2 linked regions of the Homo sapiens genome follow. The protein of the gene in region 1 purifies or fractionates together with the protein of each later gene. This does not show direct contact. Each region holds a gene or a part of one and is shown in the gene's direction. Other genes may lie near its edges.

Evidence for each region.
Region 2: the proteins of FLYWCH1 (region 1) and HTATSF1 purify together in Homo sapiens (affinity purification with mass spectrometry; one large-scale study listed by BioGRID and IntAct). This does not show direct contact.

What each region holds. Positions count from the first base shown.
Region 1 is NC_000016.10:2,939,215-2,943,036, forward strand, and holds part of FLYWCH1 (FLYWCH-type zinc finger-containing protein 1), read left to right. Parts: exon of another isoform or gene 1-766; intron 767-817; coding exon 818-878; coding exon of another isoform or gene 879-882; exon of another isoform or gene 883-947; intron 948-3,822. UniProt on the Homo sapiens protein: Transcription cofactor. Negatively regulates transcription activation by catenin beta-1 CTNNB1, perhaps acting by competing with TCF4 for CTNNB1 binding. May play a role in DNA-damage response signaling.
Region 2 is NC_000023.11:136,503,980-136,507,801, forward strand, and holds part of HTATSF1 (17S U2 SnRNP complex component HTATSF1), read left to right. Parts: intron 1-384; coding exon 385-484; intron 485-3,822. UniProt on the Homo sapiens protein: Component of the 17S U2 SnRNP complex of the spliceosome, a large ribonucleoprotein complex that removes introns from transcribed pre-mRNAs.

The sequences.
Region 1 (3,822 bases):
GCAGGCGGATCACCTGAGGTCAGGAGTTCGAGACCATCCTGATCAACATGGAGAAACCCCGTCTCTACTAAAAATACAAAATTAGCTGGACATGGTGACGCATGCCTGTAATCCCAGCTACGCTGTAATCCCAGCTGCTTGGGAGGCAGGAGAATCACTTGAACCTGGGAGGCGGAGGTTGCAGTGAGCCAAGATCGCGCCACTGCCCTCCAGCCTGGGCAACAAGAGTGAAACTCCATCTCAAAAAAAGAGAAGAAAAGAAAACAGCCTGGCCAACATGGTGAAACCTTGAAAGAAAACAGCCTGGCCAACATGGTGAAACCCTGTCTCTAAAAAAAAAGTTTATAAATCAGCTGGGCACAGTGGTGCACGCTTGTGGTCTGAGCTCCTCAGAAAAGGGGAGGATCACTCTAGCCCGGGAGGTTGAGGCTGCAGTGAGCCATGCACTGCAGTCCAGCCTGGGTGACAGAACAAGACCCTGTCTTTACAAGAAATTTTTTTGAGAAAAGGATTTCTTTGAGAAAGCCACTATCGAGCTTACAGAGAAAGTTGTGCTGGAGGCCTGGCCTTTCATCTTTGATGTCTAGTTGACCCCCACTATTTTCCATGACAGCAGCTGAAGGTCAACTCTTAGGAGCTCAAGTAGCTGCTGTTACCTGGGAAGGTAATTGATGCGTTGAATTCCCAGCGTTGCTTCACCCGGTTGTCTTTCTCCTCACAGCCTTGAGGGCGTCGTTAACAAGGTGTGTGTCCTTGGTTCTGTCAGCTTCAACAAGAGAAGAATTATTAATTCATATTTTCAATTATTTTTCCACAGAAAAGATTCAAGTTCAGCTGTGCTTCAAGACGTGTTCTCCTGAAAGCCAGCAGATTTATGGGTAATTGTATTTGTTATCTAATGGTGCATGACCAATTACAACAAAACGTAGTGGGCTTAAAACAACAAATATTTGCTGTCTCAGCTTTTGTGGGTCAACATTATGGGAGTGGTTGGGCTGGGTGGTTCTGACTCCTGAGGTTGAAGAGAATTTGTCAGCCAGGGTGGCAGTCATCTGAAGGCCCAAGTGAGGCTGGAGGCCCTGCTCCTCACCATAGGGACCCCTCCTTGGGCCCACTTGAGCATCCTTCACATGACAGCCATGGGACAGAGAGAGAACAAGAGGGAAGCTGCCAGCAGCAGAATTCAGGTTCTTCTCAACCACAGCCAGGCCATAAAGCAAGAGTCCATTATTTTATTTTTTGAGATGGAGTCTGTGTGTGGCCCAGGCTGGAGTACAGCGGCATGATCTCAGCTCACTGCAAACTCTACCTTCCGGGTTCAAGCAATTCTCCTGTCTCAGCCCCCTGAGTAGCTGGGATTACAGGCATGTACCACCACACCGAGCTGATTTTTGTATTTGCAGTAGAGATAGGGTTTTATCATGGTGGCCAGGCTGAGTCTCAAACTTCTGACCTCAAATGATCCTCCTGTCTCGGGTCTCCCGAGTGCTGGGATTACAGGCAAGAGCCACTGTGCCCAGCCTTGTTATTGGTTTGTAATTACATCCCACTATGGTCAAAGAACATACTTTGTATCATTTCAGTCCTTTCACGGCTGGATACAGTGGCTCATACCTGTAATTCCAGCACTTTGGGAGGCCAAGGCAGGCAGATCATTTGTAATTCCAGCACTTTGGGAGGCCAAGGCAGGCAGATCATTTGAGGTCAGGAGTTCGAGACCAGCCTGGCCAACATGGTGAAACCCCATCTCTACTAAAAATACAAAAATTAGTCAGGCATGGTGGTACATGCATGTAATCCAAGCTATTCGGGAGGCAGAGGTTGCAGTGAGCCAAGATTGTGCCACTGCACTCCAGCCTAGGTGACAAACAAAAACCAAATCAAAAACAGAGAAATTTGGGAAACTCAGAAATACGTAGAAATTAAAGAACACACTTATAAGAAACCAGTGAGTCAGACTGGGCATGGTGGCTCACGCCTGTAATCTCAACACTCTGGGAGGCAGAGGCAGGAGGATCACTTGAGCCCAGGAGTTTGAAACCAGTTGGGGCAACAGAGCATGACCCTGTGTGTAATTTAAAACAAACAAAACAATGAGCCAAAGAAGATAATTATAAAATACTTTGAAATAAAACTTATGGGATGCACTGAAAGCCGTGCTTAGAGGGAAATCTATAGCTAAAAACACTTCTATTAAAAAGGAAGAAGCCTGGGCAACATGGTGAGACCTCGTCTCTGCCAAAAACTCAGCCAGTCATGGTAGCATGTGCTGGTAGTATCGCTTGAACCTGGGAGATTGAGGCTGCAGTGAAGCATGATTGTACCACTGCACTCCAGCCTGGGAGACAGAGCAAGATCCCATCTCTAAATGAATAAACAGGGCCAAGCATGGTGGCTCACACCTGTAATCCTAGCATTTTGGGTGGCTAGGGTGGGAGGATCGCTTGAGCCCAGGAGTTCCATACTAGCATGGGCAAGACCTCATCTCCACAAAAAATAGAAAAACTAAAAAAAAAAGAACTAAAAGTCTGGGCGTGGTGGCTCACACCTGTAATCCCAGCACACTGGGAGACCGAGGGAGGTAGATCACGAGACCACGGGTTCAAGACCAGCCTGACCAACATGGTGAAACCCCATCTCTACTAAAGATAGAAAAATTAGCCAGGCGTGGTGGTGGGAGCCTGTAGCAGGAGAATTGCTTGAACCCAGGAGGTGGAGGTTGCAGTGAGTCGAGATTGCGCCACTGCACTCCAGCCTGGGCGACAGAGCAAGACTCATCTCAAAAAAAAAAAAAAAAAAAAAAAAAAAACTGAAGCAGAAGGAAGGAAATAAATAATAAATGAAACCAAAAGTTGGTTCTGTATAAGGATCAATAAAATTGACAAATATTTAGCTCTATCTACAGATCAAAAAAATTGAAAAGCAAGAATACTGAAAATACTAAAATCAGGAATAAAGATGAGACCTTACTATGGACCTCATTCTGGCAGAGTCTCATTCTGACACCCAGGCTGGAGTGCAGTGGTGCCATCTCAGCTCACTTGAACCTCACCCTCCTGAGTAGCTGGGACTACATGCACGCACCACCACGCCTGGCTAATTTTTCTATTTTTAGTAGAAACGGGGTTTTCCCATGTTGTCCAGGCTGGTCTCCAACTCCTGGGCTCAATCAGTCCACCTGCCTTGGCCTCCCAAAGTGCTGGCATTACAAGCATGAGCCGCAATGCTTGGCCCCAGCTCATTCTCTAAGACCAGTATCACCCTGATATCAAAACCAAGCAAAGGAATCACAAAGAGAAAACTACAGACCAGTATTTCTTAGGAACGTAGAATACCAGCAAACAGAATCCAGCAACATAAAAAAGGATTATATACCATGACCAAGTAAGATTTATCCCAGGAATGCATCAACATGCAAAACCAATTAATGTAACACAGCAGGCCTGAGACTGCTGCCCTAAGAACAGCCTGTGTGCAAGGTTCACCCTTGGCTGGCATCTGGGAACTTTTTTTTTTTTTTTTTTTTTTTTGAGACGGAGTCTCACTCTGTCGCCCAGGCTGGAGTGCAGTGGTGTGATCTTGGCTCACTGCAAGATCACTGTGAGTGATCCCAGGTAGCTGGGATTAGAAGTGCGCACCACCACGCTCAGCTAATTTTTGTATTTTTAGTGGAGACGGGGTTTCGCTATGTTGGCTAGGCTGGTCACGAACTCCCGACCTCAAGTGATCCACCCGCCTCGGACTCCTAAAGTGCTGGGATTACAGGCATGAGCCACCACGCCCAGCTGGCATCTGGGAACTTGACTGGTAAAGAGCTCCTAT
Region 2 (3,822 bases), on another chromosome or scaffold:
CATGCCTCAGCCTCCCCAGTAGCTGGGATTACAGACGTGCACCACCACGCCTGGCTGATTTTTGTATTTTTAGTAGAGATGGGGTTTCACCATGTTGGCCAGGCTGGTCTTGAACTCCTGGCCTCAAGTGATCCGCCCGCCTCGGCCTCCCAAAGTGCTGGGATTATAGGTATGAGCCACCGCACACGGCCCCCTGCCCATTATTTTTATTTCAGAAAGTTTTCTGACTGGAACTATGACTGAAATACAGTTTGTTGTTGTAAAATCCAGTAATTATCTTTATTAAATACTCAGTAAAGTATTGTATGAACAACTCATTCTTTTCTCTCTCCAACAAGTCTGAAGCAAAATTTACAGTTTGTTGTTACTGCTTCATTGCCTCAGGCAGTTGGATTGGAGACCTGAGAGGCGAGCCGGACCATCCCGGATGCGCCATGAGCGAGTTGTCATCATCAAGAATATGTTTCATCCTATGGATTTTGAGGTAGGAAGTGGTGTGCTTACTGATAGAAATGCTGATAGGCTTTTTTTCTCTCAAGGGAGCCTGGAGCTTGCCTCGCCTCATCTTTGTCTTGTCACCTCCTACGTGTTTGTGCAGCGAGTAGTAAAGGAAGATGGAGCCAAGAAGCTACTTAAGTCTTTTGATTTCCCTTCCCTTTGTTTAGCCCAGTATTGTTTTAAAGTGTATCACAGATAAGACTGTTTAATAACCATACTGCGCCCCAAGCAGCAGCTACTTGGTATGGGAAACCATTGAAAAATATCATCATCAAAAGATTTATGGGAACTGCTTGTGGATTTTCAGTGCAAGCCAACAAGTATGGCCTGATTTTGGTGGGGAGTACCAGCTTCACAATTGTAAATGCAAACTTCAGTTTGGTACTAAAAGTTATAATATTTAATGTCCGTGGAAAATTCCAAGAACAGCAAGTAAAAGTGAATAAGTACATCTGTTATGTATCAACTTTTTTAAGTGATTTTAAAAAAAGTTAATGGAACTGTCCTTCCTCCCCTCAAAAAAGTGAATAAAGGAGAAGCAAAGAACAAGGAGTTCTGAGGAATATTGTCATCAAAGTACCTTGTGTTACATTCTGCCTGTATTCTTATCTCTGTCTACTGGTGTAGACTGACTTTATTGTTGTGGAGAAACAACTCTTTATTCTCTCCCTGGTTCTGAAATTAGTGATAGCAAGTTATACAGAAAGCAGGTTATACAGATAGCAAGTTATACAGAGAAAAATGTTCATAACGTAAAATTCCGTTTTTACCAATAATCTAGTTGTAAATTAGTGCCCATTCCTGACCCTTTTGTGCATTTAAACAGTCAAAATGGTAATATAATTGTAGCTCCCTTAGAGAGGGCCCCAAAATGGACAGTTCAGCTCTATCTCAATGAATAGTGTTGTGATAAGGTTTACTGTGTACCTATGGAGTTTGGGCATCTTTTGAGGTCATTGGAAATATACGTCTGGTTTATTTATGAGATTGATTGATATCTCTTCTGACTAGAAATCTGGAAGAATTTTGAAATATAACAGTTTACAGTTTTACAGTTGCAGTGATAATGAAGTATGGTTTATAAACACGTGCACACCAGATGCATTTTGAAATACTGTTTTTGCCAGCAATAACTTTAAAATGAATGCATAGAATTACAAAAATATTAGCTGGGCATGGTGGCGCATACCTGTAATCCCAGCTACTCAGGAGGCTGATTCAGGAGAATCACCTGAACCCGGTAGGCAGAGGTTATGGTAAGATCGCGCCACTGCACTCCAGCCTGGGCAACGGAGCGAGACTCCATCTCAAAACAAAACAAAATAAAACAAAACAAAGAACCAGATCATAGTCATTAAAGCAGCATATAAAATAAATGCACAGATTGATCACAATATTTAGTCTGCTAAATACAACTCCGGGATTTCCTATTATTTATTACATTTTATCCCCCTGCTAAATAAGTGATTTATTAGGTGACATATTTATTTCTGTGACTCGAGGTCTTTGATTCACACATTTCATACTCCTGCCACCCAAGTGTGAATGTAAATGCAAACCTAATTCAAACTATCTGGAACCTCTGCAAGTAGAAGTCTGTTGTGTAATTTTAATCTATTCTTGTTTCTACCTCCTGCCTTGCTCATTGAAATACCTTATTTGAGTCTAAGGATCACCCCAGGCAGACTTAGCTCTTCCCAGCTTAACAAATATTCTTTCCCCAAAACCACATTTATTCTACCTTGACCCCTATACATTCCCTCCAGTGAATATTTTTAAAGATAGAAGTTTCATGCTTGCAAATTCCTGATTTTTTTTTTAATCTTCTTGGTTTAGTATAAACATTACTTTGGAGTTACAGAGCCTTTATACTACCCTATTTTGTTTCCTTCATAGCATTTATTATTATCTGAAGTAATTTTGACTCGTCTACTAGAATGTGAGCTCCATGACACCCAGTATTTTGTCTACCTTGTTTGCTGCTGTATTCTCAGTACATAGAATTTGCCTGGCACACAGTTGGCCCTTAATATTTATGTGATGAAGAATTGAAAGAATTGCTAAATGAAACCCTTGTTATTTACAAGCCAGAGTCTTTTCATTCAGCCAGTGGATAAAACATTTTCTCTTCAGCATCTTTGCAAATGAAAGCAAATTTTCTTCTTAGATGCTTATTCCACAAAGGATGGTGGGACATTGTCTTGGCCGTGGCGGAATTAGTTCACAAAGAAATGCTTGGTGATGCTATCCTTGTTTGCCCACCTTCCTGGCCTCACATGGTCCAACTAGCTTGCTGAGAGCGTGTCAACAAGAAGAGTGACAAATAATCTTGCTTTTGTTCACTGTCTCTGAGCACCTGAACCTCAGTGTAGACCTGTGCTGTCAGATATGGTAGACTGTAGCCATGTGTGGTTAAATGTAAGTTAATTAAAATGAAATAAAATTCAGTTCATCGCTTCTACTAGGCACATGTAGCTAGTAGCTACCATATTGGATAATGCAGATATACAACATTTTCATTATCACAGAACCTTCTATTGGACAACACTGGTATAGACATTATATAACTTTTGATAGAAGTGTCCAACAGGAAAACCTGCTTTTATTGCATGTTTTGGGGGAGTGTTTGATTTGACTCAAGACTCCATATGAACCTAAAGAACACACAGCAGCATTGAGCTTTTTAGTGGAAAACAAAAACTGAATTGTCAGGTTATCCTGAGATATCTGAAAGGAGTCAGATTTTGGGTGGAGGGGTATATTTTGATTCCAAACAGTTAGAAGCAACATACCTAAGAATACTGTCTGATCTGAAGGCTAACATTTTTAATGTAACTTCAGAGGGTCTTCAGTATTTAATTCAAATCCTTACTTTAAAATGCATTGCCTGGCAAATTTGAATACCAGGACATGAAGAGTCAAAACTCAAATGCATTAGCCGGGCATGATAGCACGCACCTGTAATCCCAGCTACTTGGAAGGCTGAGGCACGAGGATCACTTGAATCCGGGAGGCAGAGGCTGCAGTGAGCCAAGATCGCGCCACTGCACTCCAGCCTGGGCAACAGAGTAAGACTCTGTCTTCAAAAAAAAAAAAGAAAGAAAGCAAAGCACTGAGACATTGGTGTAGAAATGGAGGTGATGCCTACCCCCACCATGGAATCACGCTTCAATTTAAAAGTTGTTAAACATGTTGACACAGTTTTTTTTTTGTTTTTGATATAATCCTGATTTTCCTTGGTGAATAAAAGAGAGGTATTAGAAACAGTTTATCAAATTCTTAAAAAGATTTTCTTGAATATTGGCTTTGTACAAAAGTCTGTGC